Linked DNA regions of Homo sapiens. The protein of the gene in region 4 purifies or fractionates together with the protein of the main gene of each other region. This does not show direct contact. Each region holds a gene or a part of one and is shown on either strand. Other genes may lie near its edges.

What was found.
Region 1: the proteins of MERTK (region 4) and GPI purify together in Homo sapiens (affinity purification with mass spectrometry; one large-scale study listed by BioGRID and IntAct). This does not show direct contact.
Region 2: the proteins of MERTK (region 4) and RASSF3 purify together in Homo sapiens (affinity purification with mass spectrometry, with the first as the bait; one large-scale study listed by BioGRID). This does not show direct contact.
Region 3: the proteins of MERTK (region 4) and TRA2A purify together in Homo sapiens (affinity purification with mass spectrometry; one large-scale study listed by BioGRID and IntAct). This does not show direct contact.
Region 5: the proteins of MERTK (region 4) and YTHDF2 purify together in Homo sapiens (affinity purification with mass spectrometry; one large-scale study listed by BioGRID and IntAct). This does not show direct contact.
Region 6: the proteins of MERTK (region 4) and SAFB purify together in Homo sapiens (affinity purification with mass spectrometry; one large-scale study listed by BioGRID and IntAct). This does not show direct contact.
Region 7: the proteins of MERTK (region 4) and HBA1 purify together in Homo sapiens (affinity purification with mass spectrometry, with the first as the bait; one large-scale study listed by BioGRID). This does not show direct contact.

What each region holds. Positions count from the first base shown.
Region 1 is NC_000019.10:34,392,696-34,396,195, reverse strand, and holds part of GPI (glucose-6-phosphate isomerase), read right to left. Parts: intron 2,949-3,500; coding exon 2,888-2,948; intron 2,469-2,887; coding exon 2,425-2,468; intron 2,283-2,424; coding exon 2,130-2,282; intron 1-2,129. UniProt on the Homo sapiens protein: In the cytoplasm, catalyzes the conversion of glucose-6-phosphate to fructose-6-phosphate, the second step in glycolysis, and the reverse reaction during gluconeogenesis.
Region 2 is NC_000012.12:64,683,495-64,686,994, reverse strand, and holds part of RASSF3 (ras association domain-containing protein 3), read right to left. Parts: intron 2,209-3,500; coding exon 2,101-2,208; intron 1-2,100.
Region 3 is NC_000007.14:23,511,482-23,514,981, reverse strand, and holds part of TRA2A (transformer-2 protein homolog alpha), read left to right. Parts: intron 1-1,899; coding exon 1,900-2,088; intron 2,089-3,500. UniProt on the Homo sapiens protein: Sequence-specific RNA-binding protein which participates in the control of pre-mRNA splicing.
Region 4 is NC_000002.12:111,905,107-111,908,606, forward strand, and holds part of MERTK (tyrosine-protein kinase Mer precursor), read left to right. Parts: intron 1-3,500. UniProt on the Homo sapiens protein: Receptor tyrosine kinase that transduces signals from the extracellular matrix into the cytoplasm by binding to several ligands including LGALS3, TUB, TULP1 or GAS6.
Region 5 is NC_000001.11:28,764,440-28,767,939, reverse strand, and holds part of YTHDF2 (YTH domain-containing family protein 2), read right to left. Parts: intron 1-3,500. UniProt on the Homo sapiens protein: Specifically recognizes and binds N6-methyladenosine (m6A)-containing RNAs, and regulates their stability. M6A is a modification present at internal sites of mRNAs and some non-coding RNAs and plays a role in mRNA stability and processing.
Region 6 is NC_000019.10:5,640,083-5,643,582, reverse strand, and holds part of SAFB (scaffold attachment factor B1), read right to left. Parts: intron 1,990-3,500; coding exon 1,925-1,989; intron 1,844-1,924; coding exon 1,637-1,843; intron 1-1,636. UniProt on the Homo sapiens protein: Binds to scaffold/matrix attachment region (S/MAR) DNA and forms a molecular assembly point to allow the formation of a 'transcriptosomal' complex (consisting of SR proteins and RNA polymerase II) coupling transcription and RNA processing.
Region 7 is NC_000016.10:175,240-178,022, forward strand, and holds HBA1 (hemoglobin subunit alpha), read left to right. Parts: upstream 1-1,440; 5' UTR 1,441-1,477; coding exon 1,478-1,572; intron 1,573-1,689; coding exon 1,690-1,894; intron 1,895-2,043; coding exon 2,044-2,172; 3' UTR 2,173-2,283; downstream 2,284-2,783. UniProt on the Homo sapiens protein: Involved in oxygen transport from the lung to the various peripheral tissues.

The DNA.
Region 1 (3,500 bases), on a different chromosome or scaffold from region 4:
GAGGCCAAGGCAGGCGGATCACCTGAGGTTGGAAGTTTGAGACCAGCCTGATTAACATGGAGAAACCCTGTCTCTACTAAAAATACAAAATTAGCCAGGTGTGATGGCGCATGCCTGTAATCCCAGCTGCTTGGGAGGCTGAGGCAGGAGAATCGCTTGAACCCGGGAGGCGGAGGTTGTGGTGAGCCGAGATCATGCCACTGCACTCCAGACTGGGCAACAAGAGCAAAACTCCAACTCAAAAAAAAAGAAAAAAAAAAAAAAAGGAAAAGAAAGGAAAAGAAAGAAAAAAAACCCAACCCTCTTCCTGCAAGTCTTGATCCTTCACACACTGTACGCAAATCCTGCTCCTTCCTGCACCATGCCAAAGTCCTGCCCAGATGCTCCAGGCAGACCCACCCTGCCCTGACACCGTGAGGTGGACCTGCACACGTGTCCACAGGCACGATCCCCTTCCTCCCCACACCAGTGAGGACACAGCCTCCCAACCTTTCCTGCTTAAGCCACTGTGCAGGAAGGACTCATGCCCAGGAAAAGGTGGGTCTGGAGGTCAGGCAAGGACCTCCCTAAAGACAAAATCGGTCACAAAATCAGCTCATTTCTTAAGGGAGAGCAGGCTGGGGTCCAGAGTGCACAGCTTCTTTTTTTCCCAAAGAGACAGAGTCTCACTCTGTCACTCAGGCTGGAGTACAGTGGTAGAATCATTGCTCACTGAAGCCTCGACCTCTTGGGCTCAAGCAAGCCTCTTGCCTCAGCCTCCCAAGTAGCTGGGACTATAGGTGCCGCACCACCATGCCTGGCTACTGTTAGTTTTTGTGGGTTTTTTTTGTAGAGACCGGGCCTCACTACGTTGCCCAGGCTGGTCTTGAACTCCTGGGCTCAAGCAATTCCCCCCAGCCTCTGCCTCCCAAGGTGCTGGGATTGCAGGCATCAGCCACCATGCCTGGCTAAGAGTACAGCCTTTGAGGGCTGTCACCACAACTAAATGCTAGGCTTTGGGTACCCACCTGGGCCCTGGTCATGGCAACCCTCACCAAGGCAGCTGGGATTTGGGGAACCTTGGCCTCTCCTTCAGTCACAGGATTTGCTTCCAGGTGTTGGTGAAGCCTTCTGTACCTGCCCAGAGCAACTCAAGAGCTGCTGGACAGGGACTGGCTTTGTACTAAACAAAAGCAAGGATAGGGTTGGGCATGGTGGCTCATGCCTGTAATCCCAGCACTTTGGGAGGCCAAGGCAGGTGGATCGCTTGAGGCCAGGAGTTCGAAACCAGCCTGGGCAACATAGTGAAACCCCGTTTCCACTAAAAATACAAAAATTAGCCAGGCAAGGTGGTGCATGCCTGCAATCCCAGCTACTCGGGAGGCTGAGGCACAGGAATTGCTTGAACTCAGGAAGCGGAGGTTGCAATGAGCCGAGATCGCGCCACTGCACTCCTGCCTGGGAAACAGAGTGAGAATCTGTTCAAAAAAAAAAAAGCAGGGACAGGTGTGGAAAAGCTTTCTGGGACATAATGTGACTAGGAGAGGGCCTGCTAAGCCTCTCGGGGGGCTCTGGAGATCCCAAGGGAGAAGAGGGCCATGTAGTCCAAAGAGGCCACCACAGACTAGATACACACTTGCTTTTCTGGAGGGATAAAGGCAGTGCAGGCTATAAGGGATTCCAGCTTGCAGCCCCACCCTATGGCCAAATCCCACCTCCTCAGACATGGACAGACCCAGGTCCTCATACCTGTACCAGATCCTTCCTCCCCAGATACTAACAGACCTAGGGCCTCATACCAGGGCTAGATCCTACGTCCTCAGACACTATGGTAGGCATGCATAGTGATGTGCAAGAAAGAAGTGACCCCAGCTGAGAAACATCCCCTGAGTCAAGCCAGGACCTCCCTAGCCAGGGCACCATGATCACCAGTCATGCCCCTCCCATGGTGATCAAACTCAGATGACACTCAAATGGAACCAACCTCAGTTACAAAGATTCATCCTGAGACAAGGAGCACAGATGGACCTTGGCCAGGCCCAAGGGCAATGGGGCAAAGAGCTCCTGGAGGAGCTGAAACCCAGGTTCCTAGACCTCCCAGACCCCCCACAAATCTTGCTGACTCCAAGGCCTGGCTTGGCAGCTGGTACCTGCTGGAAGTACGCAGCAAAGCGGTGCAGGTACTGGTCATAGGGCAGCATGGCGTGTGTCTCACACCCAAAGCAGTTGATGTACCAGATACCCAGCAGGGCCAGCAAGACGGGGGCGTTCTTCTCCAGGGGCGTCGTGCGGAAGTGCTGGTCCTGAAACAGGAGCAGGATGAGTGGGAGCTGAGCAGCTGCACGGGGAGGGGAGGGACAGGACAGTGGGGGAGAAAGCGGGGGACCAGGACCAACACACGCGCCTCTGGCCAGCACTTGGCAGAGAACCAGCCTCAGCACTCACCATCCAGTGAGCCCCCGAGAGCAGCTGCTCGAAGTTGTCAAAACCTGTGACACAAAAGCAGAGTCAACAGAAGTGGCCACACCCTGCGTCCTGTGGGCAGTGGGCACAGCTCCTTCTGCAACGAAGGAAGGCTGCATGGAGAGCCAGAAGATACGACATGGGAGGACTCGGACCTAGACAAAGCCCCTCCAGTGAGAGGTGGCCCTGAGTGCAGGGATCTGACTCTGCCTAGGATAGGAGAGAAACAGGACTGCAGTTGTGAGGGGCAAAGACGGGGGCCAACTTGCACACGCAAAAAAACCCAGACCTTCCTTCTGGACATGAAATAAATATCCCAGCCAGCTGCAGAGAGGCCAGCAGCCTGTGAGGACAGCATGATGTTCAGGGACACAAGCCCCCTACCCCGACCTTAGACTGCAACACTGTCTCCCACAGGGGCTGCAAGACACAGAAACACACTCACCCACGTGCAGGGCAATGGAGAGTCCGATGGCCGACCACAGCGAGTAGCGTCCTCCCACCCACTAGGAGAGACAGGACAAGGTGCTGAGGGAGGGCCGGCACACCCCGCCCCCCACCTCCTGCCGGAAACCCTGTCCCTGGTCTTGCACAGGGGCGTCTCGGAGGGCCCTGGCCCAACCCACCTCCAGGAAGCAAGGCAGCAGGCAGGTGCTGGCAACACATGGGAAGACCAACAGGGCAGACTACAGATGACTGACCACAGCCACAAGACAAACTGAAGAGCTTACCGTGGTCTTCCCTGAGATGTCGGGCCCTGTCTCTGCAGACACCAGCAGACCCAGGACCTCATACCTGTGCCAGGGCCCACCTCCTCAGACACGGACACACCCAGGGCCTCATACCTGCGCCAGGGCCCACCTCCTCAGACACGGACAGACCCCAGGCCTCATACCTGTGCCAGGGCCCACCTCCTCAGACACGGACACACCCAGATCCTCATACTCATACCAGATCCTACCTCCTCAGATATGGACAGACCCAGGGTCTCACACCCATGCCCAGCCTCACCTCCCCAGACACTGGCAGACCCAAGGCCTCATACCTGCACACAGCTT
Region 2 (3,500 bases), on a different chromosome or scaffold from region 4:
ACAGTATATTTAGAAAAGATTTATTGTACTGTTTTATTAAACTGTCAAGTGTTACATATAAATGCCACAGTTAAAGTAGAACATTTAAAACTATCTTTATGGTGTGTTATTTTTCTTCCTTCCCACAAGATCAATTTTCAATCCTAATTCTCTAGTTTGTTCTTTTTTGAGACAGGGTCTCACTCTCTCACCCAGGCTGGAGTGCAGTGGCACGAACACAGCTCACTGCAGCCTCAACTTCCTGAGTTCAAGTGATCCTCCTGCCTCAGCCTCCTGAGTAGCTGGGACTGCAGGCACCCGCCACCATGCCTGGCTAATTTTTCTATTTTTAGGAGAGATGGGGTTTTGCCATGTTGACTAGGCTGGCCTTGAACTCTTTTTTTTGAGATGGAGTCTTGCTCTGTCGCCTAGGCTGGAGTGCAGTGGCACGATCTTGCCTCACTGCAAGCTCTGCCTCCTGGGTTCACGCCATTCTTCTGCCTCAGCCTCCCGCGTAGCTGGGACTACAGGCGCCCGCCACCACGCCTGGCTAATTTTTGTATTTTTAGTAGAGACAGGGTTTCACTGTGTTAGCCAGGATGGTCTCGATCTCCTGACCTCGTGATCTGCCCACCTCGGCCTCCCAAAGTGCTGGATTACAGGCGTGAGCCACCGTCGAACTCTTGACTTCAAGTGATCCACCCGCCTCAGCCTCCCAAAATGCTGAGATTACAGGTGTGAGCCACTGTGCCCAGCCTAAAATTTTTATCTTTAAAATGACATGGATAATTTGTATCTGTTTTAGTCTCTATCAGGAAAGGAAAAAAAAAAAACATAGCAAGTGGATTTCTCCTTTGATGAAAAAATGTGTTTGAAAAAGAAATCTTGCTGCTGGAATGATGAAGAGTTATCTTGGGATTCTCTGCTCCTCTCCCCTCTTTTTGGAGGAGTTCTACCAGGGAGGGGTCCTTTACCACAAGGGTTTCTATCTGAAAGCTCCTCCCCAAGAATCACCGATTCGGTAGGGCCTGTTTTAAACCAATCACCTTGTCCTTTACCAAACTCTGTCAGTTCACAGTAAACAGACTGAGAGACGGGGATCCAAGTGCCCTGGAAACTGGCGCCAAGGGCTGACAAGTGCCATGAAGAAGGCGGGCCACCCAATGGGTAGGCGAGACCTAGATGCCAGCTAAGTTTAGAGGAACATGAATACTCTAGCTCCGCTGTCAGCTCGTTTCCCTATCCCCAGGCCCTGAGGCTTCTCCCTCCTGTACGCCGACTCCCTGCATGCTTCAGTGTGGCACAATGCTGTGGAAGCCTGCGACAGCGACGTGGAAGAAACTGAGTATTAAGTACCTTGTCTTACACTAACGACCGGCAGAGAAAACTATCCTATTATATACCTCTATATTCCAATCCATGGGCTCAAAATCCTTTCCCTGACACTTCCATATTTATTTTGTACAAGACAAAAACTTAGGGGCTTCTGATACCTGTAATCCCAGCACTTTGGGAGGCCAAGCTGGGCAGATCCCTTGAGCCAAGGAATTTGAGATGAGCCTGGGTGATATGGCAAAACCCCGTCTCTACAAAAAATACAAAAATTAGCTGGGCATGGTGGCAAGCACCTGTGGTCCCAGCTACTCGGGAGGCTGAGGTGGGAGGATTACTTGAGCCCGGAGGTCGAGGCTGCAGTGAGCGGTGATCGTGCCACTGCTCTCCAGCCCAGGTGACAGAGCAAAACCTTGTTTCAAAACAAAACAAAACAAAAAACCTTACCTGAGGTCTTCTTAGAATCTGAGTCACCATTTCTGTATGTTAGGCAATGATGCTAAAAATCCTTTGAGGAGGGAGGGGTGGGTCACAAAATCTTTTAAAATAAAATTATAAGTGTTTCACTTTTTTAAGGTTAACCCAGCAACTGATTTTTGAGACAAAGCTACTTCACAATACAGATTTAAATGGAAAGCCACAGAAATATTCCACTTTCCTGTTCTGTATACCTTGACTACTACACTTCTACAAATGCTATTCAGATATTTAGAACTATAGATTGTAGTACCAACAATTTATATTTGTCTTTTGACAGGTGTCAACCTAAATAGTATTTTGAGTGCTTACCAAGGTCATCTTCAACTTGTCTGTGACTGCTAAGTTGTATTTATGAACTTTCTCTTTGATCTCCTCTTTGCTGAGGTAACTGTGGGTTTCCTTCTCTTTCTCAACATCCTAGAAGAAAAACAAGACATGTCACATGTGAGCAATCATAAAAAAAAGTGCGGATAGGCCGGGCGCAGTGGCTCACGCCTGTAATCCCAGCACTTTGGGAGGCTGAGGTGGGCGGATCACCTGAGGTTGGGAGTTCAATACCACCCTGACCAAAATGGAGAAACCCTGTCTCTACTAAAATTACGAAATTAGCTGGGCATGGTGGCGCACGCTTGTAAACCCAGCTACTTGGGAGGCTGAGGCAGGAGAATCACTTTGAACGTGAGAGGCAGAGGTTGTGGTAAGCTGAGATCACGCCATTGCACTCCAGCCTGGGCAACAAGAGCAAAACTCTGTCTCAAAAAAAAAAAACAAACAAACAAACAAACAGATAAGTCAGGATTTTTTAAAAATTCCACACAAGGGCCGGGCACGGTGGTGGAAGCCTGCAATCCCAGGACTTTGAGAGGCCAAGGACGGCAGAGCTTAAGCCCTGGAGATTGTGACCAGGCTGGGCAACATGAGGAAACTCTATCTCTACAAAAAATACAAAAATTAGCTGGGCACAGTGGTGCACACCTGTAGTCGCAGCTAGTTAGGAGGCTGAGGTGGGAGCATCACCTCAGCCCAGAGGTCGAGGCTGTAGTGAGCCATAATTATGCCACTATGCTCTAGCCTGGGTGACAGAGTGCGACCCTGTCTCAAAAAAAAAAAAAAAAAAATTACAACCACACAAGAAGAACCTTATTGTTCTTGCATGTTACCTTGAAACACACACACACACACACACACACTCACTCTCTCTCTCTCTCTCTCTCCTTCTCTCCCTCGCTGCTTCTCTTTCTCTCTTACCTTCAAACTCTCCAGGCTCATCCACCAATTACGGTTCTCATTCTTTCATACTACAGTCTTCCTAGGGGATATATTTTTTAAGAAAACTAATTTGTCAGCAGCTACAAGTAACACTTCATTACCAATATATTCTGCAAAACTGTCATTGCTAAATTTCCCTTCTGCAAAAACATCATTTCCTCAGCATGCCTGCTAGATTGGCCATTTCTATTTTAAACAACATTTAAAGACATTTACCACAAGTTTCTCTTTAGCAACTTGTATTAACTCTGTTGTCTTTATAGCTTTACAATATTTATTGGCAAAAAGTACAGCAGTTAATCAGTATTAACTGGCACTATTCACGGACTCATACTAATCACTGACCTGTAAACTGTACACAACTACCAGAGGATAATTCATCTTCCAAACAAATCCCCAGGCCAAGATACAAGTAGCCAGACTTCTCCTTCCCACCCTTC
Region 3 (3,500 bases), on a different chromosome or scaffold from region 4:
GGTTTAGTTTTTGCTAACTAGCAGTCTAGGTTTCAACCAGGCAGCCGGGCTCTAAAGTTCTTAGAACATGTTTGCATGCTGTACTATGCTTCTCCCACAGGATACTAACTTAAACTGTGGTGGAGCATGTCATTATTTAATGTTTTGAAATCTGTAAATTTATTTCTAAAATCTGGATTGTGGGAACACTGAAAGAATATCCTCGCTAAAGAATGAAAATGGGCCAGGCATATTGGCTCACGCTTGTAATCCCGACTACTTGGGAGGCTGAGATGGGAGGATTCCCTGAGCCCAAGGAGGCCAAGGCTGCAGTGAGCCATGATCAGGCCAGTAAACTCCAGCTTGGGCAAGAGAGTGAGGCCCTGTCTCAGAAAAAAAAAAGAAAGAAAATGGAGGAGAGGAGGTCTAAATCAACAATTACAGATGAAGTCAGATTAAGTACAAATCTGTAAGGGATGTAAAGCATTTGAATTAACTAGAAAGATGGTATTAAACTGAGGATACTTTTTTTTTATAAGTGAGACGGAGTTTCACTCTTATAAAAAGTAAAGGTTGTTCAAAGAGATTTTCCTCCCCATCTAATTAGAAATAGATAATAATTTCTCTTAGAAGCAAAATTTATTCAAAGAGCTGTGCTAACATTCTTAAATATCTGCTAGGCCGGGTGGGGTGGATCACCTGAGGTTGGGAGTTGGAGACCAGGCTGACCAACATGGAGAAACCCCATCTCTACTTAAAAATACAAAATTAGCTGGGGGTGGTGGTGCATGCCTGTAATCCCGTCTACTTGGGAGGCTGAAGCAGGAGAATGGCTGGACCTCGGGAGGTGGAGGTTGCGGTGAGCCAAGATCGCACCATTGCCCTCCAGCCTGGGCAACAAGAGTGAAACTCCGTCTCAAAAAAAAAAAAAAAAATCTACTAGCCGTAGTAAAAAAATCAATGTACTTTATGTTCTTAGCTCCCACAATTTAGCCTAAGTATTTGCCCTAACATGCTTATACTGGTCCAAACAAGCATTAGGTCATAGCCTGTTCCTCTTCCTTATTTAAAGGTGTTTTTACCTTTCTCAACATTCCACAAATTACTTCCTCCTTCCTTTGTTCTCCTCCGCCTTTGCCTCTTTTAAAAAGTTTGAAGTTACTAGCCAATCAAGACAAATCAGAATGTGAAGTCCCATTCCAGCCAATAAAAAACAGACACAACAGTAAGGTAGACACGTCAGATTATAAATGACCCTGTCTCCTTTGTTCAGTGTACTCTTGTGACAAAACTGCTGACAAGCGTACCCTTTCTACAGAAAATAAAAATGGCCTTACTAAAAAAATGTATGTTCAAGTGCTATTTCTTTACAACACCGAGAAACAAACATTTCTAACACTCTTGTCGCCTAGGCTGGAGTGCAATGGCTCGATCTTGGCTCACTGCAACCTCCACCTTCTGGATTCAAGCGATTCTCCTGCCTCAGCCTCTGGAGTAGCTGGGATTACAGGCGCCGGCCACCATGCCCAGCTAATTTTTGTATTTTTAGTAGAGATGGGGTTTCACCATGTTGGCCAGGCTGGTCTCGAACTCCTAACCTCAGGTGATCCACCCACCTCAGCCTCCCAAAATGCTGGGATTACAAGATTTTCAGGATACATTATGAACATTGCTGGGCTGGAGAGTAAGAACATTTTAATTCAGGCTATAGACAGAAAGCATATCCCAAAGAAGGCCTTGGGTGTACTGTGAATTGTAAAATATGGCTCATCTGCTCTAGTTCTCTTAAAATCTTATCTCCAAATTATTAGAAACAATATATTTATTGTGTATTAGATGAGGTGTTCTAAACAAAGTATTTCTGTGTTTCTTTGATTTTGATTTTAATTTGGAGTTTTAAATAATATTTCCATTCAATAGGCAAATCCAGATCCCAACACTTGCCTTGGAGTGTTTGGCCTCAGTTTGTACACAACAGAGAGGGATCTTCGTGAAGTATTTTCTCGATATGGACCATTGAGTGGTGTCAATGTGGTTTATGATCAGCGAACTGGGCGATCTCGAGGATTTGCTTTTGTGTATTTTGAGAGAATAGATGACTCAAAGGAGGTAAATTTGTCTTTTATATGCCTGATTATAGTACTGAATTAGTGTGAAAAGTTGATTAATAGACTTATTTCTGTAAACATTGCATCCTTTTTTCTTCCTTTTTTTCTTTTTTTTTTTTTTAAAGATAGGATCTTGCGTCCAGGCGCGGTGGCTCATGTCTGTAATCCCAGCACTTTGGGAGGCCGAGGCAGGTGGATCACGAGGTCAGGAGATCGAGACTATCCTGGCTAACACGGTGAAACCCCGTCTCTACTAAAAATACAAACAATTAGCCAGGCGTGGTGGCCGGCGCTTGTAGTCCCAGCTACTCGGGAGTCTGAGGCAGGAGAATGGCGCGAACCCGGGAGGCAGAGCTTACAGTGAGCCGAGATTGCGCCACTGTACTCCAGCCTGGGCGACACAGTGAGACTCCGTCTCAAAAAAAAAAGATAGGATCTTGCTGATTTTGCTCTGTTGCCCAGGCTGGAGTGCAGCCTCGACCTCCTGGGCTCAAGCAGTCCTCCTACCTCAGCCTCCTGAGTAGCAGACACTACAAGTGTGGGCCACCATGCCCAGATAATTTTTTGTTGTAGAGATGAGGTCTCACTATGTTGCCCAGGCTGATCTCGAACTCCTGGCCTCAAGTGATCCTCCCAGAATGCTGGGTTTACAGGCATGAGCCATCATACATGGCCTGTTGTGTCCTTTCTAATTTTGACCTGATTCAAACTCTGCCTCTCAGTGTTAACAATTGGAGTGACTACAGTTTCACTTTTTTTGGTTATGCTCTCTGCTATAGGCATATCCTAATTGAAATCTGGCTGTGTAAAGTGAGCTATATGTGTTTAAATTAATGGAAAAAGTATATGTGTAAGTGTTCTCTTTTGAATAAGCCATAATGATGCTCCAAACAGATGATTACATTAACTTTTAAAAAATAATTCTGATGTGTGGGTTTGATATGTTTAATTTTGTGTCTATAATGAGGAAGGAACTTGTTTTTCTATTCTCTAAATGTTCATTTATCAGTGTGTTCAATAATTGAAAAATAGTACATGGAAAGAATTGATAATTTTTTAGTGCTATTCTTAACTTGCCTAACACAATGAACTAATCAATGTCAATGACTTGAAATAGTGCTATTCTAACATGTTCGGTATTATAAAGGAAGTGGTAGGCTTGCTTTAAGTTTTTGCAGGGAGTCTTGCTGTGTTGCTTAGGCTGGTCTCGGAACAACTCCTGGCCTCAACTGTTCCTCCTGCCTTGGCTTCCCAAGGTGCTAGAATTACTGATGTGAACCACCATACCTGGCCTAGGCTCGCTTACTCTTTACTAAAAGTTGATAGTAATTGATTTAGAAAATTGCATTTTAAAGAATTTGAAGCTCAATACTTTTAGTTTTGTTAGACCTTCTGTCTTTTAAATTAATATAT
Region 4 (3,500 bases):
ATCCTGGCACTTCCTCCCTCCTAGGCCTTACTTTTCTCTGTCTGAACCATGGCTGTTGAACTGGGTGATTCTTAGCCACAGGAAGGGAGGGCCTAGATCTTCCCTAGTTTTGTGAGACTCTGCAGCTGGACAGCCATCCCTTCATGGGAGCTGCCACATTTTCACTCTCGGGGCCTCTGACAGGCACTAGGATCTAGGGACATGGCCGGCATGTGAAACCCTGGGCTGCTATGGCCAGGTCACCTCCTCAGGTCCTGGTGTTTCAGAGTGATAAAGAAGAAAGGGTGATTATGTCTCAAACATTTCATTGAGAAACCTACACTGTTCTTTTTTTTTTTTTTTTTTTTTTTGACATGGAGGCTCACTCTGTCACCCAGGCTGGAGTGCAGTGGCGCGATCTCAGCTTACTGCAGCCTCCTGGGTTCAAGCGATTGAACCCAGGGTTCAACCTCCTGGGTTCAAGCGGTTCTCCTGTCTCAGCCTCCCGAGTAGCTGGGATTACAGGCACCCATTACCACACCCAGCTAATTTTTGTATTTTTTAGTAGAGACAACGTTTCACAATGTTGGCCTGGCTGGTCTCGAACTCCTGGCCTCAGGTGATTGGCCCACCTCAGCCTCCCAAAGTGCTGGGATTATAGGCGTGAGCCACCGTGCCCAGCCAGAAACCTACACTCAATTCTAAAGCATTTTATTTCATCCTTCTTGGCTAGTTCTTCAATTATCAGTGCTTCTTTCACTCAATGGTAAATGGATTTTCCATGAGTCTTGGAGGTGGCAGGCAGGGAGAAGGGGCAGAAGGAAAGAGAAAGAGAGAACAGATGTTGGCTTTATGTTTGGAATAAAATTACACCAAAAGCTAAGAACATTTATATTTGTGCTTAGAGAAACCCCATTTCATTTCAGAAGCTCAATGCCTGGATTTTTTTGCCAGCACATTTTACACTTGTATGTTTCTCCTTGTACTCTGTGCCTCCATGTATTTCTGTTGGTCCCTTGAAAACAAGATCCAATCATCACAGGGTTAGTGCTCTGCCCTAGGTCACTCCAGTAGGGGTCCATCCTCCGGATTTAGATCTCAGGTTGGCACTTATGCAAATGCTTTCTGACAGGTCCCCTTTTTTGTGTAATCTGCTTTTTCTTTGAGGATCTAGATACCTCAGCATTCAGGGACAGTAAACATCTTAGAACTTGCCTTAGCTGTGGTCTTGCCTCTCATTAGATACACAAAGAAAAGCCTTGTTTATTTTGGAGAAGGAATTGTTTTGTTATTTTAAGCCTTAGGGCCTTGTGGTTAGAGCTACCAATAGTAGATTGGCTTCATTATGGTTTTGAAAATGATCACTTTCACAAGTAAGAACAGGCTGTCTTAGTGGAGAATATTAGAACAGAGACTCAAACTTAACTGAAAGTTGTTTTCTGTCACTGTGCCGCTTAGGGAATTCTCAGTGCGGTGATAAATATTCATGGACTTCCCAAGTGTTGTGTGTGCCTGGAGGCCAGTTTTTCACTTGTTCCAATTAACGGCAGGCTGCCTCCACACAGGAAGTGAAACCAGCCTTTAAGCCTTTTTACAATTCTGGCACATGATTTGAAGATTTGGTGATGAAAGCAATGTTCTTTGAAAGTTTTGGAGCAAATAAAAAAAAGAAGCTTTTTAGATTCACTCTTAGTTTAAAAAATAACCACTTGGGGAGTTGAAAGATGTAAGTTCTCATCCTAGCTTTGAGAGGAACCTGCAGGGACAGCTGGGGTATAGTGTGTCCTCCTTCTAAAACTCCACATCCTCACTTGTCAAATGGGAAAGCAGATGGATGATTCTAGGCCCCTTTGGGGCAGAACACTGATTCCATCTAAAGGGGAGAGGTGGGAAGGGATACTTTCTCCCATGCCGTTTGGGACACAGAGCCTCAGCCTGAGTTTGACCCTCAGCCCTGTGCGTGACTCTCGGTGTGAACTTTCTTAGACATCAGCCCAGAAACGGAGATGGAGGCTGTGTGAAGAGTTTCATTAAAAATGAGTGATGCAGCCAGGTGCGGTGGCTCACGCCTGTAATCCCAGCACTTTGGGAGGTCAGGGTGGGTGGATCACCTGAGGTCAGGAGTTTGAGACCAGCCTGACCAACATGGTAAAACCCTGTCTCTACTAAATACAAAAAATTAGCCAGGCGTGGTGGCGCATGCCTGTAATCCCAGCAACTTGGGAGGCTGAGGCAGAAGAATCACTTGAACCCAGGAGGCGGAGGTTGCAGTGAGCCGAGATTGTGCCACTGCACTCCAGCCTGGGCAATAACAGTAAAACTCCGTATCAAAAAAAAGAGTGATGCTAGTGGGTTCTTTGCTGTTGACAGTTGCCATTCCCTGCCACCTGGGCTGTCTGTTCCTCCAGTAAGTACCCCCTCCAACTCTGGGGCAATAGAATAGTCTGGAAACATGGAGGTATATTTCTGAGAATATTGGATCTCCCCAAACACATATGACCTCTTCCTGCTAAATCTTCTGAGAGACAGAGGGATGGACTAAGCTTTTTCCGGGGTGGATGGAGTGGGGCATATCCCCCCTGAGGGGGAACAGCAGAATCTTCAGGATCAGGGAGAATGATGTCATTTTCAAAAGTTTATTCATTCAATATTATTATGTCATTTTATAATTGGAAATTTAAAAAATATTTTGTGATATAAACTGTAGAATGCAACGCTCTTAAATATTCTGGCTGGGAAGATAAGGATAAAGACAATGATTCATGACAGGGGTTCTCAAGAAGAGGTATGCTTCAGAACTACCTAGGAAGCATTTTCGCAAGGTAGAAGCTCAGGTTCCCAGGACCCGTGGACTCAATCTTTGGGGCTGTGGCCCTGCCTTGTGTATGTCCAAGCTATTCTGTGCCACCTCTTTCGTTACACTCCACTGATGCAGTATATCTGATGTCTGATTCTTGGGCAGTGGTGGGGAGCCTCTCTCTATTACCCCATCCCAGGAGGGGTATGTATCAGAACCTGGCCATTGAGGGTAGGAGTAAGCTAATTATGCTTATCCAAGGGAGGTGGCAATTCCTAGACAAAGTGAGAATGTTGAGCTGGATGATTCATTAAGCCAAGTGCCCTTAGGATTTTAGGACCTGTTGGTGGAAAGAGATACAGCTAATCAGGTGGGCCAACCAGTAAATAGTAAGGCCTTTCCCTTTTTACCATTATATTTTTTCCTCTCAGCTACTCTTTATACTCACATCTTATTATAAAATATTTAGGATACACAAAAGGATTTAACAGGTAATAAAACTCGCCTGTGTACTCACTACTTGACGTAAGAAGTCAGACATTAACACTACAGTGGAAGTCCCCGGTCGTTCCTCTCTCCAGTGTCATCCCCTCACTCCCACCCAGAGAAAACCATTATCCCACATTGGGTGTTTCAATTCCCATGCATGTCTTTATCCTTTGATCATGATTGACATGATTATGTTGGTAACACTCTATAGTGTTGTTTTGCACCATGTCAGTTA
Region 5 (3,500 bases), on a different chromosome or scaffold from region 4:
TGAGCCACCGCGCCCGGCCTCAGAATTTTTTAAATTTTACATTTTTACCAAGGCAGGTGGATCATGAGGTCAAGAGAGTGAGACATCCTGGCCAACATGGTGAAACCCCGTCTCTACTAAAAATACAAAAATTAGCTGGCGTGGTGGCACGCGCCTGTAGTCCCAGCACTTTGGGAGGCCGAGGCGGGCGGATCACGAGGTCAGGAGATCGAGACCATCCCGGCTAACACGGTGAAACCCCATCTCTACTAAAAATACAAAAAATTAGCCAGGCGTGGTGGTAGGCACCTGTAATCTCAGCTACTCAGGAGGCTCAGGCAGGAGAATGGCGTGAACCCGGAAGGCGGAGCTTGCAGTGAGCCGAGATCGTGCCACTGCACTCCAGCCTGGGCGACAAAGCGAGACTCTATCTCAAAAAATAAATAAATAAATAAATAAAATAAAAATAAATAAAATGAAATTCCACCTATTATCTCTTAATGTAACTCCAGAAATACAGACAATAAATTATTTGTCCCAAATTGTAACACTGAATTAGAAACTTAGACTATAGATGTCCTTTTTCCTAAGAAACATGTTTATATTTAAGTTAGTTGGCATACTTAATAGCATTTAAAATAGTCAAGAAAAAATTCAAAACAGCATCATGCAATTATATTTACTACAGCACTGTCTCATTCTTTAAACACCAAATTTGTTCCTCTTTATAATGTGCAATTTTAAGTCTCACAAATACCTATGTTCAATATTGCTTCAAAAGTCAAACTTTCTCAATTTTAACACAACAATACCAAAACAGCCAGAAGTGGTGGCTCACACCTGTAATCCCAACACTTTGGGAGGCCAAGGCAGATAAGACTGCTTGAGGCCAGGAGTTCAAGACCAGCCTGGCCAACATATGGAGACACTGTCTCTACAAAAAAAAAAAAAAAAATCTTTTAATTAGGCATGGTGGTGGCATGTGCCTGTGGTCCCAGCTACTTGGGGGGTGAGCTGGGAGGATGGCTTAAGCACAGGAGGTCAAGGCTGTAGTGAGCCCTGATCACACCACTGTACTCCAGCCTGGGTGACAAAATGAGACCCCATCATTAAAAAAAAAAAAAGAGAAGGAAAAGTATAGATTGGAAACAGAGTGGGAAGCCAGGGCATCAGTAGGCTCCTTCTTGAAGGACCTCCCACTGGCCAAATCTGTGACTTGAGCATTACGTAATATTAATGGTAAGTAAACACCTATCATAGTAATACCTGAATCAAGCAAGAATTATCAATGCTAGAATTAAAAGGAGACAGTTTGATGAGAAACAAGTTATTTACATAGTGTCAACTATTTTCCCACGTATTAAAAAAAAAATTAAGTGGAGAACCTGGTGGACAACACTTTACCCAAAGTGACCAAAGTTAACATTATCAGTAATGGCATAAACAGACATCTTGTACCTCCCAGTATGATGCACTGAGAAGGATACAACCTCACTTGAAACCAGTGAAGACAGACTTGAAACCAGTGAAGACAGACTTAGGAGGGCTGGGCGCAATAGCTCACTCCTGTAATCCCAGCACTCTGGGAGGCGGAAGCTGGCAGATAGCTTGAGCACAGGAGTTCAAGACCAGCCTGGGCAACCTGGCAAAGCCCTTGTCTTACATTACAAATACATACATACACACATACACACACACAAAATTATCTGGGTGTGGTGGCATGCACCTGTAGTCCCAGCAACCTGGGAAATCACTTAAGCCCGGGGAGATGAAGGCAGCAGTGAGCCATGATCGTGCCACTGCACTCTGGCCTAGGCAACAGAATGAGACCCTATCTCAAAACAATGAAAACAACAAATAACAACTTAGGAGACATGAAACCACGGTCTCCAAATGTTCGTGGACTAGAACTTGGACCACAAAAAAATTGCTATCAAGGACATTAAGACAACTGATAAAGTCTGAATAAGATCTGTGGGTAACAACATTGTGTCAATTAAATTTCCTGATTTTGATAAATGCACTGTGGTTATGTAACTGCATGTCTTTGTTCTTGGGAACTACACACTAAAATACCTAGGAGAAAAGACATGATGTCTAGACTGTAACTCTCTGGCTCAGGAAAACATTATATATACACATTTTAAAAACATTCAAATGATAAAGCAAATGTGGCAAAATGTGGAAGAGTAAATCTGAAATTATTCCAAGGCCCAGCATGGTAGCTCACATCTGCCACTCACACTTTAGAAGGCTGAGGCAGGGGACGTGCTTGAGGCCAGGAGTTCAAGACCAGCCTTGGGCAACATAGTGAGACCCTGTCTCTACAACAACAACAACAACAACAAATTTAACTTAGCTGGGTGTGGTGGTGCGTGCCTGTAATCCTAGCTACTTGGATTAGCTACTTGGAAGGCTGAGGTGGGAGGACAGCTTGAACCCAGGAGTTAGAGGTTACAGTGAGCTATGATGCCACCGCTACATTCTAGCCTGGCAGCCTGGGTGACAGAGGCCCTGTCTCTCAAAACTTTTTTTAAAAATGTATTTCAAAACATAAAACTGGGGGGAAGGGAAGAAATGAATTTATTTCTTCTGCAAAAAAGTTAGGTGCACTAAGTTATATTTAACACTTAATAACACTTTAATGTTTATATAATTACAGGCTGGGTGTGGTGGCTCATGTCTGTAATCTCAGTACTTTGAGGCCGAGGCAGGTGGATCACTTAAGGCCAGAGTTCGAGACCAGCCTGGGCAAGGTGGCAAAACCCCGTCTCTACAAAAAAAATACAAATATTAGCCAGCATGCTGGCACACACCTATAGTCCCAGCTGCTGGGGAGGCTGAAGGCAGGAGGATGCAGTGAGCCGAGATTGCACCACTGCACTCCAGCCTGGGTAACAGGTGAAGATAAATTTAAACCAGGAACAGAGGGCCTTACACCTTGTTCAGTCCTAGCTACTTGGGAGGCTGAAGCAAGAGGATCATCTGAGCCCAGGAATTTGAGTCTGTAATGAACTATGATCACAGCTGTGAATAGTCACTGCACTTCAGCCTAGAGAACATAGCGAGACCTCATCTTAAAAAAAAAACAAAAAACAAAAAACAAAAAAACATTAAGGCCTGGCACGGTGGATCACCCGAGTAATCCTAGCACTCTAGGAGGCCGAGGAAGGTGGGATCACCTGAGGTCAGGAGTTCGAGACCAGCATGGCCAACATGGCAAAACCCCATCTCTACTAAAAATAAAAAATTGAGGCCAGGCACGATGGCCCACGCCTGTAATCCCAGCACTTTGGGAGGCCGAGGTGGGTGGATCACGAGGTCAGGAGTTCAAGACCAGCATGGCCAACATGGCAAAACCCCATCTCTACTAAAAATAAAAAATTGGGGCCGGGCACGATGGCTCACGCCTGTAATCCCAGCACTTTGAGAGGCCGAGGTGGGTGGATCACGAGGTCAGGAGTTCAAGATCAGCCTGGGCAAGATGGTGAAACCCCCACTACTAAAAAAAACAAAAAAAA
Region 6 (3,500 bases), on a different chromosome or scaffold from region 4:
TCAGGAAGGGTAAGTAACTCCTGCTGCTGTGCAAGTGTTTCTGCTACTCCTTTTTAGAAGCTGATGAATGGGACTCACCAAAAATTGCACACCCTATTTGTATCAGAATAACTCTCAGCCACTTCTCAGACTCAAATCCTCCATTCAAATATGACAATCTGCTACCTCTAAGGATACTTGGAATCAGTTCCAAGAGGAAATGCAAAAATATTCTGAAGAAATGCAGAAGCGGATTGACTGGCATACAACAAGGTTTCTGTCCACCAAGACTGCTTGAGAAGCACTCACTGCGGAAGACCTAAGGACCAGGACAAGAACAGGGCCCCCCACGAGCCAACACAGAAAGGGCCCCACAGCTTCTCATATGCATCACTTTTTCTGTCTGACAAACATTAATCATCAGGTAAATGAAATTAATATCAAATTAATGGCACCAAGACAACATCGTACATAAGTTAAGTACATGGCCTCTGGAATTAGCCTGATCTTAGTTCTTATTCTGTTATGAGCTGTGTGTCATCTGGAGATGTTTTTTAGTTCTTGCCTTCCCAATTTCCTCAACTGAAAATGGGGACAACAGCACCTCATGTTGCTATTAGAAGAATTAAAGGGCACATGCTGGGCGCGGTGGCTCACACCTGTAATCTCAGCACTTTGGGAGTCTGAGGCAGGCGGATCACCTGAGGTCAAGAGTTCAAAACCAGCCTGGCCAACATGGTGAAAACCGTCTCTACTAAAGATACAAGAAAATTAGTCGGGCTTGGTGGTGGGCGCCTATAATCCCAGCTACTCACTTGGGAGGCTGAGGGAGGAGATCACTTGAACCCAGGGGGCAGAGGTTGCAGTGAGCTGAGATCGCGCCACTGCACTCCAGCCTGGGCAACAACAGCAAAACTCTGTCTCAGAAAAAAAAAAAAAAAAAAAAAAAAAAGAAAGGAAGGGCATAATGCCAATGCCTGGTAGGTAGTATTCAGGAAATACTACCCACTATAATCTTACTATCCATTTGATATGTTTCTAACAGGAAAAAAATTTAGGTTTAAAAACAACATCCAGGTTAATACTTGAGGTTAACTCTTAAGATAGGTATCAACTGGCTGTGTTTTTTTTTTTGTTTGTTTGTTTTAAACAAGAGATAGGGTTCTGTCAGACTCTGCCACCCAGGCTGGACTTCAATTGCACAATCATAGCTTAGTACAGCCTTGAACTCCTGGGCTGCTCCTTCCACCTCAGCTTTCTGAGTTACCGGATTACATGAGTGCATCAAGGCACCCAGCTCAACAATTGCTTCTTAACAGGAAAACACCAACTTCTAACCTCTTCCTAGTTCAATGCTTTCAAGGTACCTAGGCCATAACACCACAGATCAAGTCCGGCAACAGGAAGAGTCTGAATGGTTGTCCTCAAAATGTCTCATACTGTATGCCGCAAATGGATAGCAAGTACATATGAAATGTTATAAGACATCACCTTTCAACAAAACAAATTGGTTCAGAATCATCTGAACCAACTGACCCTTATTCTACTGAACTGGCATTACAGAACAACTTACTTCCCAATATGAAACTGATCACCTATTTTAATTGTGGAACTGATACATTCAGGGCACATTCTAGAGACATTGCCGGTTACCTACAGCATGTTCCTGAAGCTGCTCCGGAAGCTCTTTCATTTCCCCCTCGACTAGCTCTCTACTATCCGACAGGGACTCCTGGAGGTTATCAGCATCATCGTCTTCGACACAATCTGCAACGCTTCCATTATCAATTTCTGCTTCATCCAACACACTGATATCCATGATGTCGATGTCCTGCAAGTTCTCCAGACTGGTCTCAACATCCTCCTGTGACACAACCAGACCGAACCATCATGTGACCGCCACTGGTCCATCCACCACGCTACTCACTCGCAAGGCTGCACATACCTGTCCATCCCCAGAGTTTTCCTCCAGCCCGTTATCTTCCACACCCTCTTCTTCTGGTTTGCGCCCTGAAGACAGAATCATTTACAGCATGAGATCAAATGATACGCACTTTACAGAAGCAACAATGCCCTGAGCACTACACAAGTGGTCACTTTATAAACATCTGAGACACCTCACTACTTAGGAACACTTCCTAATCCAGGAATGAGGCCATTCCGCACAAGACAGCCCTGCCCCACCCCCAAGCAGAAGAGGTTCTGTTCTTGTCTGAGCTGTGGAAGTAGAAGTGCAGAAAACAGGTTCTTAGTAAAGTTGAACAGGATCAGACCTGTCCTCAGCTCTGCCCTTCTTCCTATCCCAAGTGTCCTTGTTTGAGGGAAAAATTATTTGTTGCAAATGTGCTGCCTTTTAGTTAAGGAACATGTTTTCCCACAGAAACTGCGCATGCCCGAGTATGCACATTTTTAATGCTTAAAAAGAAAAAAGAAGGGCCGGATGCGATGGCTTACGCCTGTAATCCCAGCACTTTGGGAGGCCTAGGCGGGCGGATCACCTGAGGTCAGGAGTTCGAGACCAGCCTGGAAAACATGGTGAAACCCCGTCTCTACTAAAAATACAGGACAATCACTTGAACCCAGGAGGCGGAGGTTGCACTGAGCCGAGACTGCGCCACTGCACTCCAGCCTGGGCAACAAGAGCGAAACTCGGTTAAAAAAAAAAAAAAAAGAAAAACAAAAAACCCACATACTATCAAGATACTCCAGAGGGGCTGGGCACGGTGGCTCATGCCTGTTAAGTCCAGCACATTAGGAGGCCGAGACAGGTGGATCACTTGAGGTCAGGAGTTTGACACCAGCCTGGCCAACCTGACGAAACCCTGTCTCAACTAAAAATACAAAAAACTAGCTGGTTGTGGTGGCGGTTGCCAGTAATCTCAGCTACTCAGGAGGCGGAGGCAGGAAAATCGCTTGAACTCTGGAGGTTTAGGTTGCAGTGAGCTGAGATCGTGCCGCTGCACTCCAGCCTGGATGACAGAGCAAGACTCTGTCTCAAAAACAAAACAAAACAAAACAAAAATTGCAGAGGAAGGTTTTTTTTTAACTTATACATTTCCATCAACAGCGAATTAAAAAGTGCCAATCTCGTGCACTTGTAGTCCCAGCCACTCGGGAGGCTGAGGCAGGAGAATCGCTTGAATCCGGGAGGCAGAGGTTGCAGTTAGCCGAGATCACACCACTGCACTCCAGTCTGGCAACAGAGCGAGACTCCATCTCCAGAAAAAAAAAAAAAAAAAAAAAAAGCCAATCTTTCTTGAATCTCTGTTAAAAATTTGCTATTTTTCTTTATCTTTGCCAATATGCTAGGTAAGAAAAGGAATACTGTTTTAACACGAATTTATCTCCTGACTACTCAAATTGCTTTGAATCATTTGCTTTTTGTTGTTGATCACCTGTACTTTTCTAAAAATTTCTGATTTACACCCCACTATTTAAAAACTTCGGCTCCAGCCAGGCGCGGTGGCTCACGCCTGTAATCCCAGCACTTGGGAGGCCGAGGCAGGCGGATCACCTGAGGT
Region 7 (2,783 bases), on a different chromosome or scaffold from region 4:
GCCTGGGGAGACAGGGCAGGGAGCAGGCTGAAGGGTGCTGACCTGATGCACTCCTCAAAGCAAGATCTTCTGCCAGACCCCCAGGAAATGACTTATCAGTGATTTCTCAGGCTGTTTTCTCCTCAGTACCATCCCCCCAAAAAACATCACTTTTCATGCACAGGGATGCACCCACTGGCACTCCTGCACCTCCCACCCTTCCCCAGAAGTCCACCCCTTCCTTCCTCACCCTGCAGGAGCTGGCCAGCCTCATCACCCCAACATCTCCCCACCTCCATTCTCCAACCACAGGGCCCTTGTCTCCTCTGTCCTTTCCCCTCCCCGAGCCAAGCCTCCTCCCTCCTCCACCTCCTCCACCTAATACATATCCTTAAGTCTCACCTCCTCCAGGAAGCCCTCAGACTAACCCTGGTCACCTTGAATGCCTCGTCCACACCTCCAGACTTCCTCAGGGCCTGTGATGAGGTCTGCACCTCTGTGTGTACTTGTGTGATGGTTAGAGGACTGCCTACCTCCCAGAGGAGGTTGAATGCTCCAGCCGGTTCCAGCTATTGCTTTGTTTACCTGTTTAACCAGTATTTACCTAGCAAGTCTTCCATCAGATAGCATTTGGAGAGCTGGGGGTGTCACAGTGAACCACGACCTCTAGGCCAGTGGGAGAGTCAGTCACACAAACTGTGAGTCCATGACTTGGGGCTTAGCCAGCACCCACCACCCCACGCGCCACCCCACAACCCCGGGTAGAGGAGTCTGAATCTGGAGCCGCCCCCAGCCCAGCCCCGTGCTTTTTGCGTCCTGGTGTTTATTCCTTCCCGGTGCCTGTCACTCAAGCACACTAGTGACTATCGCCAGAGGGAAAGGGAGCTGCAGGAAGCGAGGCTGGAGAGCAGGAGGGGCTCTGCGCAGAAATTCTTTTGAGTTCCTATGGGCCAGGGCGTCCGGGTGCGCGCATTCCTCTCCGCCCCAGGATTGGGCGAAGCCTCCCGGCTCGCACTCGCTCGCCCGTGTGTTCCCCGATCCCGCTGGAGTCGATGCGCGTCCAGCGCGTGCCAGGCCGGGGCGGGGGTGCGGGCTGACTTTCTCCCTCGCTAGGGACGCTCCGGCGCCCGAAAGGAAAGGGTGGCGCTGCGCTCCGGGGTGCACGAGCCGACAGCGCCCGACCCCAACGGGCCGGCCCCGCCAGCGCCGCTACCGCCCTGCCCCCGGGCGAGCGGGATGGGCGGGAGTGGAGTGGCGGGTGGAGGGTGGAGACGTCCTGGCCCCCGCCCCGCGTGCACCCCCAGGGGAGGCCGAGCCCGCCGCCCGGCCCCGCGCAGGCCCCGCCCGGGACTCCCCTGCGGTCCAGGCCGCGCCCCGGGCTCCGCGCCAGCCAATGAGCGCCGCCCGGCCGGGCGTGCCCCCGCGCCCCAAGCATAAACCCTGGCGCGCTCGCGGCCCGGCACTCTTCTGGTCCCCACAGACTCAGAGAGAACCCACCATGGTGCTGTCTCCTGCCGACAAGACCAACGTCAAGGCCGCCTGGGGTAAGGTCGGCGCGCACGCTGGCGAGTATGGTGCGGAGGCCCTGGAGAGGTGAGGCTCCCTCCCCTGCTCCGACCCGGGCTCCTCGCCCGCCCGGACCCACAGGCCACCCTCAACCGTCCTGGCCCCGGACCCAAACCCCACCCCTCACTCTGCTTCTCCCCGCAGGATGTTCCTGTCCTTCCCCACCACCAAGACCTACTTCCCGCACTTCGACCTGAGCCACGGCTCTGCCCAGGTTAAGGGCCACGGCAAGAAGGTGGCCGACGCGCTGACCAACGCCGTGGCGCACGTGGACGACATGCCCAACGCGCTGTCCGCCCTGAGCGACCTGCACGCGCACAAGCTTCGGGTGGACCCGGTCAACTTCAAGGTGAGCGGCGGGCCGGGAGCGATCTGGGTCGAGGGGCGAGATGGCGCCTTCCTCGCAGGGCAGAGGATCACGCGGGTTGCGGGAGGTGTAGCGCAGGCGGCGGCTGCGGGCCTGGGCCCTCGGCCCCACTGACCCTCTTCTCTGCACAGCTCCTAAGCCACTGCCTGCTGGTGACCCTGGCCGCCCACCTCCCCGCCGAGTTCACCCCTGCGGTGCACGCCTCCCTGGACAAGTTCCTGGCTTCTGTGAGCACCGTGCTGACCTCCAAATACCGTTAAGCTGGAGCCTCGGTGGCCATGCTTCTTGCCCCTTGGGCCTCCCCCCAGCCCCTCCTCCCCTTCCTGCACCCGTACCCCCGTGGTCTTTGAATAAAGTCTGAGTGGGCGGCAGCCTGTGTGTGCCTGAGTTTTTTCCCTCAGCAAACGTGCCAGGCATGGGCGTGGACAGCAGCTGGGACACACATGGCTAGAACCTCTCTGCAGCTGGATAGGGTAGGAAAAGGCAGGGGCGGGAGGAGGGGATGGAGGAGGGAAAGTGGAGCCACCGCGAAGTCCAGCTGGAAAAACGCTGGACCCTAGAGTGCTTTGAGGATGCATTTGCTCTTTCCCGAGTTTTATTCCCAGACTTTTCAGATTCAATGCAGGTTTGCTGAAATAATGAATTTATCCATCTTTACGTTTCTGGGCACTCTTGTGCCAAGAACTGGCTGGCTTTCTGCCTGGGACGTCACTGGTTTCCCAGAGGTCCTCCCACATATGGGTGGTGGGTAGGTCAGAGAAGTCCCACTCCAGCATGGCTGCATTGATCCCCCATCGTTCCCACTAGTCTCCGTAAAACCTCCCAGATACAGGCACAGTCTAGATGAAATCAGGGGTGCGGGGTGCAACTG